Regions from separate parts of the Homo sapiens genome. Here all the other regions are reported to be linked to region 2. The links are microRNA targets in miRTarBase. Many come from high-throughput screens and were not tested one by one. Region 2 holds a microRNA gene; each other region holds the end of a gene's coding sequence.
Evidence for each region. The annotated mature microRNA hsa-miR-511-5p reads GUGUCUUUUGCUCUGCAGUCA and lies in region 2 at 1,484-1,504, shown strand. An mRNA with a match to its seed (bases 2 to 7 or 8) in the 3' UTR can be bound and repressed. Matches are read on the target gene's strand: a 7mer-m8 pairs with bases 2 to 8, a 7mer-A1 pairs with bases 2 to 7 and ends in A, and an 8mer does both.

Region 1 (3,000 bases), not on the chromosome of region 2:
CTTAGAGATGGGCAACTGTCCCTTTGCTTCCTTAGAGGTTCCTTACTTACCACCAAGTGAAAAATCAAGAGAACTGGGTCACCCCCTTCAACAGGAGTCTAGGGAAATGGGGATGGGGGAAGAGCAAAAGGCAGGTGGAAGCTGTGGGAAGTGGGAGGGGGAACAAAAGGAGCAGGCCGGGAGGCAGGTGGCGGGCTGAGGTGACCTGGCATGACTGCTCTACACCCCGCAGTGCTGCATCGACCTGGAGCACGGAGTGCTGCGGCTGAAAGCCCCGTTCTCAGAGCTACCCTTCCTGCCTTTGTACCAAGAGCCTGGCCAGTGACTGCTGTCTCAGTCAGTCCCCAGAGGGAAAGACCTTGCCTTAGAAGAAGAGGCGTGTGGGGAACGGGGGCTCTTGAAGCCAGGTAGCTGGGGACTATGGTGTCTGCCCTTCCAATCACCTCCCTGACCCCTGCTGTCCCATTTTCCCCAGCTGGCCGCATTCCTCTCTGCTTCTCAGCAGCTGTCCTACTCCCCAGGACGAGTTTTCACTAGAGGGCCCACGATGCCAGGATTCTGATTCATCTTCCTCCCAAGAAAAGCAAAGCCAAATCAAGACCACAGATAGGAACCTAAGCACAATGGGGTGCCTGCTTGGGCTGGGTCGAAGGCTCTGCTGACTGCTGTCCTTGTCCATCACCCAATACCACCCCAAACACAACTCAACTTCCCACACCACCATGTCTCTCACCACACCTTCTGGGCCTCATTATCTCCCACAACTAGACCGCCATGCCTCACCAACCTATGTCCCTGGACCTCCTGGTGTCTGCCTCTCGGAGTCTGTGCACATCTGCTCACAGTTGAGTGGGGGAAGAAACAGCCAGAATTCAATACAACAAAGAGCGGGAGTTAGTATAGGAATGTCCATCTCATAAGGCTGAGAGCTATTTTTTCCTGTGGCTGCAAATGTCTGAAGCCAGTTAGTTTGATTACCCTGTGCAAAACCTTGGACATACTTCTGCTATTAACGCTATAGGTATTTATCCGTTTCCACTGGCTTTTTGTACCCACCGAGCCCCTGAGCCTTGCGTGTGTGTGTGTGGAAGAGCCTTGTAGAGAACTGCTCCTGTGAGGCAGACAGGACAGTGAGGTTGTCACCACTCAGACTTCACCTATTCAGCATTCTTTCTGATTTCTAGAACTATCCACCTCATTAGGCCTTCTTCCTATCCCCATCTCTGGCCTCTTGAGCTTAAGCTTGTATTGTCCTGGAATCAGTGGCTTTCTAACCCCCTGCCAGGCTTTGCCAAAGCAAAAAGACAGAGGCTTTTTTTTTTTTTTTAAAGTTTGGGGTCTGTCAGGAGACAGAGGCTTTTTTGAATTCACTGTGAAGAGAAGAACCCGAACCTTAAGACGCCAGATCCCTGAGAGTCTTTCTGGCTGGTTTGAGTCTCTCAAATCATGGATTAGGAGTAAAGAAAGAGGCCAGGCGCAATGGCTCATGCCTGTAATCCCAGCACTTTGGGAGGCTGAGGTGGGTGGATCACTTGAGGTCAGGAGTTTGAGACCAGCCTGGGTAATATGGCAAAACCCCATCTCTACTAAAAAATACAAAAATTAGCCAGGTATGGTGGTGAACACCTGTAATCCCAGCTACTTGGAAGGCTGAGGCATAGGAGTTGCTTGAACCTGGGAGATGGGGGTTGTAGTGAGCCAAGTTCGTGCCATCGGACTCCAGCCTGGGTGAAGGAGTGAGACCCTGTCTCCAAAAACAAACAAAAAAGGAGCAGAGAAAGACAGTGGTACAGCTAACCTGAACAAGGGAACTGGGACCGTTGGGCTGAAACAGTCTTGAGCCTGGGGTTGACTGGGTTAGAGAAGAACCGGGATGCAAGGAGCTGCCTGTGACACCTGGCCTGCCCTTTCTCAGCTGCCTCCCCTGCCCTTTCTCAGCTGCCTCCCCTGCCCTCAGAAGGAAAGGAGAGGGCTCACTTATCACTTGTGCCATAGCACCTGGTCTCAAAATCCTAAAAGCTTTCCTCGCCCTCACTGCCTTGCTCCACAAGGTCCACTTTCCTGGGTCTTGTGCTGTGCCTTTCCTTGTCTGCCTCCTGCTGCTTCTGTAACTGCAGACCCCAGGCCCAATGGCAAGCCCTCGGCTCAGCTGCTTCTCCATTGGAATAAACTCTTGTTTCTCTATGTCGATGTTCTTCTCTGGTCTTCCTCCCTGCCTATCAAGAGCTGAGTGATAATTGCCCATTGTCCCTTACAGAAAGGAAATGTAAATGTGGGCCCTTGCCCAGGCTGACCCATCTGACTAGGGTCAGTATAATTGAGAGGAATTTGAAAGCAATGGCTTTCAAACTCCTCGACCACAGCTTACCACAGCAGGAATACATTTTACATGGCACTCAGTACACACATGCACATATGACTAACAAAACAATACTTACCTACACTGAGAGCAATGTACTCTGCTATTTTCTATTTTACTTTATTCTATTCTACCTATTTAAAAAATGCTGGCCATAATCCACCAAAGGACTGCAACCACAGTTTGAAAAACACCGATTTAGAGCATAGAGAATCAAGAACAGACGGCACATAAATGACCCAAGATATAATTCTGATTGTGGTCTGGATCATAAACCCGCATCACATTTTAAATGTCTATTGTCTTGGAGACAATAAGCTGTTTTATGGGGGAATGGGTGGGTGGAAAAATGGGAGCAGGGCTTCTGAAGCTGACTAATACCTGAAGAATACGGCAACGTGAGAAAGCACTGACCCGGCTGCTTTGGTAAATGGAAGAAAATCATCTCAGGGTTGCTAGGAACATGGGTAAGACCAGACTGTAGAAAGATCCTTCAAAACAAAACAGTTTGCCATTCCTTTAACAATTACTAACGTCAAGAACTTGGAATTGTGCCACGGAAGACAGAGCTTAAGATGGGGTGGAGCCCTTACCTCCACTGCTCCCCTGGGCCTAAAGCCTGGTTTCCTTATGGGTGTTGG
Region 2 (3,149 bases):
GAGTGACAGAGCAAAACTCCATCTCAAAAAGAAAAAAAAAAGATAACTTAATGCTTATTACTAACCATTATTTTCTTTGTGTGGTAGTTAAATAAACTTTAAAAAAATCATTTAATTACCACACAAAGAATACCACCAAAACTTTAAAAAGGTTATTTAGGTTATTACCTGCTCCAGACTTTGTGGAGCAGGTAATATGATTTCCGTCTTGCAGGAAAGGAAGTGACATTCAGGCACAGGTTACATACACATTGGAGGTCACAAAGCATAGGTATTAACAGAATGTGGCTCATTCACCCTGTCTTCAGGTGGAAGGTGAAGCTAGTTTGGGGAGTACTGGTTTTTAAATCATATATTAGAGTAGCAAAACGCATGTGAAATGTATCAATGCCTACATTCATCCCTTTAGCAACGTTGACTTTATCTGGTTCTTTAATCAGTTTCCACTAAGAAATGGATAAGGCATAGCTGCTGAAAGTCTTCTTCAGTAGGCTGAGTTGAAGATATTGAGACAGTTTTAGTTCTGGGAGCACAGCATGCTGCCCATCTAGCTCTCCCATTAGCTTTTTCTCCTCCATTTATTTTTATTTTTATTTTTGAGACAGAGTCTCACTCTGTCACCCCGGCTGGAGTGCAGTGGTGTGATCTCCACTCACTGCAACCTCTGCCTCCCAGGTTCAAGCAATTCTCCTGCCTCAGCCTCCCAAGTAGCTGGGATTACAGGTGCCCGCCAGCTCCCCGGCCGATTTTTTTGTATTTTTAGTAGAAATGGGGTTTCATTATGTTGGCCAGGCTGATCTCGAATTCCTGACCTCAGTTGATCCATCCGCCTCAGCCTCCCAAAGTGCTGGGATTACAGGCGTGAGCCACCGTGCCCTGCCCTAATAATGTTTAGTGTGGCAGGTTTGGAACATCATGTATTCTTTCTTTTTAATAAATTCTACTTGTAGATTCAGAGATACATGTACACGGTTGTTACATACCTAGGTAAATTGCATGTTGCTGAGGTTTGGGATATAAATGATCCATCCCATCAACCAGGCAGTGAGCATAGAACCCAGTAGCTAGTTTTCCAAACTTTGTTACCCTCCATTCCTCCCCCATCTCATAGTCCCCAGTTTCTGTTGTTGCCATCTTTGTGTCCATGAGTACTCGGTATTTAGCTCCCACTTAGAAGTGAGAACATGGCTATTTGGCTTTCTGTTCTGCATTAATTCGCTTAGGATAATGGCCTCTAGTTGCATCCATGTTGCTGCAAAGGACATGATGATTTCATTTTTTTTTATGGCGGCATAATCATGCATTCTTTTCATTAGGTACCTCTCTTTGATAATGTAATCCGTTGTGACAACTGTTCAAGTTTTAAGGTGTAGCTTTATTAGCTGATAATGGGGGAAAGGGTTGTTTCAAAGAAGTATATTTGCTTTATCAACATTCTAAGTATTGGAATGATCCAACGATAAGAAAACAATAGACACCCATCGTGTCTTTTGCTCTGCAGTCAGTAAATATTTTTTTGTGAATGTGTAGCAAAAGACAGAATGGTGGTCCATTGAATCCCCAGGATGAAGACATGAGGAGACGTGGGAGGGATGCTATCTGCTGGGAATAGCTATAATAGTCCACTTTAACTTTTCCTTTTCCTCGAAGGAAGTCCATCAGCTGAACCTGGAAAAAGCTGTGTGTCACTAAATCCTGGAAAAAATGCTAAATGGGAAAATCTGGAATGTGTTCAGAAACTGGGCTATATTTGCAAAAAGGGCAACACCACTTTAAATTCTTTTGTTATTCCCTCAGGTAAGTGATCTATGGGATCTGAAGTGCCTCAACTATTAGAATTGAAAGATAAGTAACATTACAGCTTAGGTGTAACTGTTGGAATGCCGCCAGAGGTTTTGTGGATAGTTGATGGGGTAAACTTAATGATATTACTGCAATATTTCTGTGTGCTGGTTGCTAGTATTTCCTGAGTGTGCGGCGGTGTCTGGGCATTGTGGAGATCCTCTGACCTAAATAAAAATGTTACCTTCCCAATCAGTCCTCTGAGGTAGGTGTCATGATTCACATGCTATAGTTGAGGAAAAAGATATTCAGAGGATACAGAAACCTTGCAGACATGGCAAAACCGGAATCCAAGCTAGAAAGTCAACATTTGGAAGGGATGTTTATATTAGGTCCTCACGGCTCTATCTGGGCTTCCTTGCTATTCAGTGTAGCGTCTTATACTAAAGTTTTCATAAAATAGAATAAAATATCTAAAAAGTTGTAACTGAATTTTATTTATTTATTGAGACAGAGTCTCATTCTGTCACCCAGGCTGGAGTACAATGGCGCGATCTCAGCTCACTGCAAACTTCGCCTCCTGGGTTCGTGATTCTCCTGCCTCAGCCTCCCGAGTAGTTGGGATTACAGATGTGTGCCATCACGCCCAGCTAATTTTTGTATTTTTAGCAGAGATGGTGTTTCGCTGTGTTGGCCAGGCTTGTCTTGAACTCCTGACCTTGGGTGATCTACCCACCTCAGCCTCCCAAAGTGCTGGGATTACAGGCATGAGCCACCGTGCCTGGCCTGTAACTGAATTTTAAATATCGGCTAGACTTCAAGAAAAAAAAAAATCAATTGTGTTGTCCCTTACAATTTTATAGGAGAATAAACTACTAAGGCAAGAATTCTTTCTTCCAATTGATGAAAGACAAACTACATATTTTTTATTATTACCTCTTTTTGGAGGGACAGCGAATGCTTTAAATGGTTTAATTTATTTCTGTTTTTCTGCTGGAGGAAACTGACAATGTGGCATTCTTGTTTTTTTCTTCCCATTGGCTTTGAAAGCAATTTCATGTATTTTAAAATACGCTTGACATAGCTAGAGATTCAAAAGATACAACATGATAAATAATAAGGTTTTCCCTACCTCTCACCTGTAACACCCAGTTTACCTTCCTGGAGAATAATTGTTTCTGGGTGTGTATCCTTAGTTATTCTGTGACTATATAAACAAATATATTTATAATTATTTTTGTTTCATACAAATGGCAGTATACTATAATATGTTTTTATCCTAAGTTTTCCACTTAACAACAATTTTGGACATCATTCCACGTAGAATATAAACAGCTTCTATGTTTAATTTTATGGCTGTCCAAAAG
Region 3 (3,000 bases), not on the chromosome of region 2:
GGGGCCTGGCTGGGCTGAGTTTTGTGTTTTAGAAAAAGAAGTCCCCTCCCAGTCTTGGGGGTGGCAGGGGCCTAGGCCTCGGTGGGGGGGGGGTGTGTGGGGAGGTGCCCCCTCTCTGGAGCCTGGCCCCCCCCAGGGTGGGGGACAAACCCAGCCCTTATTGCTCGGACGCCCTGCTGCAAGCTTCCCACGCGGACGTGCGTGTTCCCGAATGCAGAGGGCGGAGGGGAGAGAGCCCCAAGAGACAGCAGGGGAGAGGGGTCCCTGCCCTGCTGCAGGGGAGAGGAGAGAGGGCAGGGAGGACTTAAAACCACGAGAATAAATAGGTTCGTGTATCAAGAACAAGCTAGGGATTTCACCAGCTAAATAGGACTGAAAAAATTCTCAAGACAAGAGCAAAAAGAATCCCATTGGTGACCTGGACGTCGCTGGCCGTGGGGACTGTCCCGCAGAGCACACGCCCCCGCGTGCCACTCGGCTACCATTACTGTTATTAATAATTATTATTACTTTAATGATTCCACTTCCCCTTTTATAAATAAATTAGGCATAACCATGTCTCGGCAAAACTTAAAGAAACAAAGAGAACATTGTCGTTCCTTTAACTTGCAAACCGGATGAAGTAACAGAAATATACACGGATGTCCTTACAGGGCAACGAGGAGAATAAATAGTTAACATAGCAATAAGTTAAAACTACAAGAAGCTAAATTCAGCAAAAAAGTACAAGAAAGTTAACTGGTGCCAGTTTATGTCTTTTTTTTTTTTCCTTTTTTTTTTTTAAATCTCTTCTGTGTGTTTTCTTTTTTTGTTGCTTTTTTTTCCTCTTCTGTTTGTGTTTTTTTGTCGCTTTTTTGATTTTTTTCTTTTTTGTTCCTTGCAGCAGAAGCTCCACAGACGTTTAATAACAACACCGGGAGGGGTGGGGGAGAGAGAGCTGGACAGTCAGATGGGGGCGCCATAGCCAGACACCAAACGTGGGGACACCGGGGGAAGGCAACTTAACTATAGCTAAAGTCGGGGGTTTTGCAATTCTCAGTTCCGATGGGGCCGCTGAGTGGGGTGGGGAGCGGTGCGAGGGCTCCCAGGGGCTCCGGCCTGTGGCTTCTGTTGGAATTTTTTTTTTTTAAAGAAAGAAAACTAGGGCGATGCAATGTCCAGACAGAAGCCGGGGGCCGGGGCTCGAGATCGGGGGCTGTGTCCACTGCAATCTGGAAAGACGAAAAACCCAACAAACCGAAAGGGGATAGGTAGGTGACAAGTGGACGGGAAAGGAGTGTGGGGCTGGGCCTTTGGGCCCATCCACCCCACCCTGGGCCTGGCGGGGAGTGCCGGGGTCTTGCTGCCGGGGAGGCCCAGTCCTGGTGGGGGAGGCTCAGGGCTGGGCCTCTCCCTCAGCTGTGTGGGCCAAGGCCTCGGCCCAGGGGGAGGCTGAGCCCCGGGGACAGGGGTGTCCTTTGGCCTCAAGTGTTGTGGGGGGGGGGGCTGCCTCCAGCCCACCGTGACGCCAAGGTGGAACGAGGTATCGTGTGTCTCAATGCATGTGCGCTGCGTGTGCACGCCTGTGTTCGTGGGCGCCAAGGAGACCGCTGGGGGTCCAGGAGAGATCTCTGCAGAGAACCTGGGGGCCAGGGCGAGGGGGCCGAGAGGGTGAGGGAGCGTCTGGGGCAGGGTCTGGGGTGGGACCTCCTGCCTGGGCCTGTGGGATGCTATGGGCATATGTCTGCGTGTTCCTGGGTGGTGTTTGTGTTTCTCCGTGACCTGGTGTCCAAATTTGATGTCCAAATATCTATCGCTACATTCACGTGTGCACGTGGACAGGTGGATGGATTCGTGTGCCCACATCTGTGGTCTGTGTCCACATGGACGTAGCCCCAGCTTCTGTCTCTTTCTGTCTATCCCTGTCCACGTGTCTGAGTTTGGCCAACCAGTCCCTTAACGTGTCTGGGGCATGTCGCTGTGTCCGTCTGCGTCTGTCCGTGTGTCCCCGTGGTGTGACTGTCTGCGTGGTTGTTTCTCTGTGTGGCCCCGTGGGCTGCTAGCCCCTAAGCCCTGCTCCCTGGGCCCCCCCCACCCCCGCCCCAGTTGGTAAACATAACCTGCCAAAATATTTTCTTTTTTTTTTTTTGTCTTTTTTTGTGTTTTTTTTTTTCAAGTTCAAGAATCCCCAGTAAAAATTCTCCACGAGGTCTTTTTCCCTTTTTACAAAAATAGAGTTTTTCTTCCCCTCCCACCCCCCTTTTTTTTTCATTTTGTTTCTGCTTCCAGCCCCACTGCCTGCTCCCCCGCATTCCACCAGGGGGCACTGGGCCGGGGGTGCCCACACCCCTCCTCACGGTTCGCTTTTTTGGGGATTTTTAAACCTGTTCCTCCTACCCCAGGCCCCACCTAGGTGCTGGGGAGGCCTGGGCAAGGGGGTCTGGGAGGGCACCCCCTGGAGCCCCCCAAGCCATCCCATCGGGGGTGGTCGAGGGTGGGGGTGGGGGCACATCTCTGCATTCTTTTTAGCCGAAAAAAGAAACAAAAACCTTCACCATGAACCAAACCAAGACGAGAGAGTGAACAGCCCAGCCTGGGGTGGGGGCAGGAGGATGGGGCGGGGGATCCCCGGGCACCCCCCCAATTCCCTGCAGACCCTCCCACCCCAGAGTGCTCACCCTGTGGCTTCCGCAGGGACGTGGGGCCCTCGCGTCGTCCGTGGGGCTGCCTGTGCTGTCTCTCTTGGGCCCCTTCTCTCTCTCTCTCTCTCTTTCTCTCTCTCTCTCTCTGCTGCCCGGGGAGGGGGTGGGAGGGCAGGCGGGGTGGGCTCACGCCTTGTGCTGTTTGCTGGTCTTGAAGGAGACCTGCAGCACGCGCTCGCCCAGGCGATAGCCGTTCAGGCTGGCGATGGCCATGGCCGCCTCGTCATAGTTGGTCATGGTCACGAAGCCGAAACCCTTGCACTTGTTGGTGGTGAAATCACGGATGACCTTGACGTTGGTGACTGCCCCAAAAGGCCCG

Region 1: the mRNA of NRIP2 is a reported target of hsa-miR-511-5p. Seed matches in the 3' UTR shown: 7mer-m8 at 1,301-1,307 and 7mer-m8 at 1,778-1,784.
Region 3: miRTarBase lists ELAVL3 as a target of hsa-miR-511-5p. Seed matches in the 3' UTR shown: 8mer at 2,127-2,134 and 7mer-m8 at 753-759.

What each region holds. Positions count from the first base shown.
Region 1 is chr12:2,824,532-2,827,531 of GRCh38, reverse strand. NRIP2 (nuclear receptor interacting protein 2) reads left to right here. Exons shown (of 6, transcript NM_031474.3): 6 at 233-2,184. The coding sequence ends at 325. It overlaps ITFG2 (integrin alpha FG-GAP repeat containing 2), which reads right to left. Exons shown (of 12, transcript NM_018463.4): 12 at 2,456-3,000. Among named protein-coding and RNA genes, the nearest start is that of NRIP2, 9.0 kb to the left of the region's middle. RefSeq lists a silencer at 2,115-2,409.
Region 2 is chr10:17,843,639-17,846,787 of GRCh38, forward strand. MIR511 (microRNA 511) reads left to right here and starts at 1,469; the gene lies at 1,469-1,555. MRC1 (mannose receptor C-type 1) reads left to right here. Exons shown (of 30, transcript NM_002438.4): 6 at 1,651-1,797.
Region 3 is chr19:11,451,719-11,454,718 of GRCh38, forward strand. It overlaps ELAVL3 (ELAV like RNA binding protein 3), which reads right to left. Exons shown (of 7, transcript NM_001420.4): 7 at 1-3,000. The coding sequence ends at 2,808. Among named protein-coding and RNA genes, the nearest start is that of PRKCSH, 18 kb to the left of the region's middle. RefSeq lists enhancers at 394-443, 474-593, 518-1,288 and a silencer at 2,152-2,333.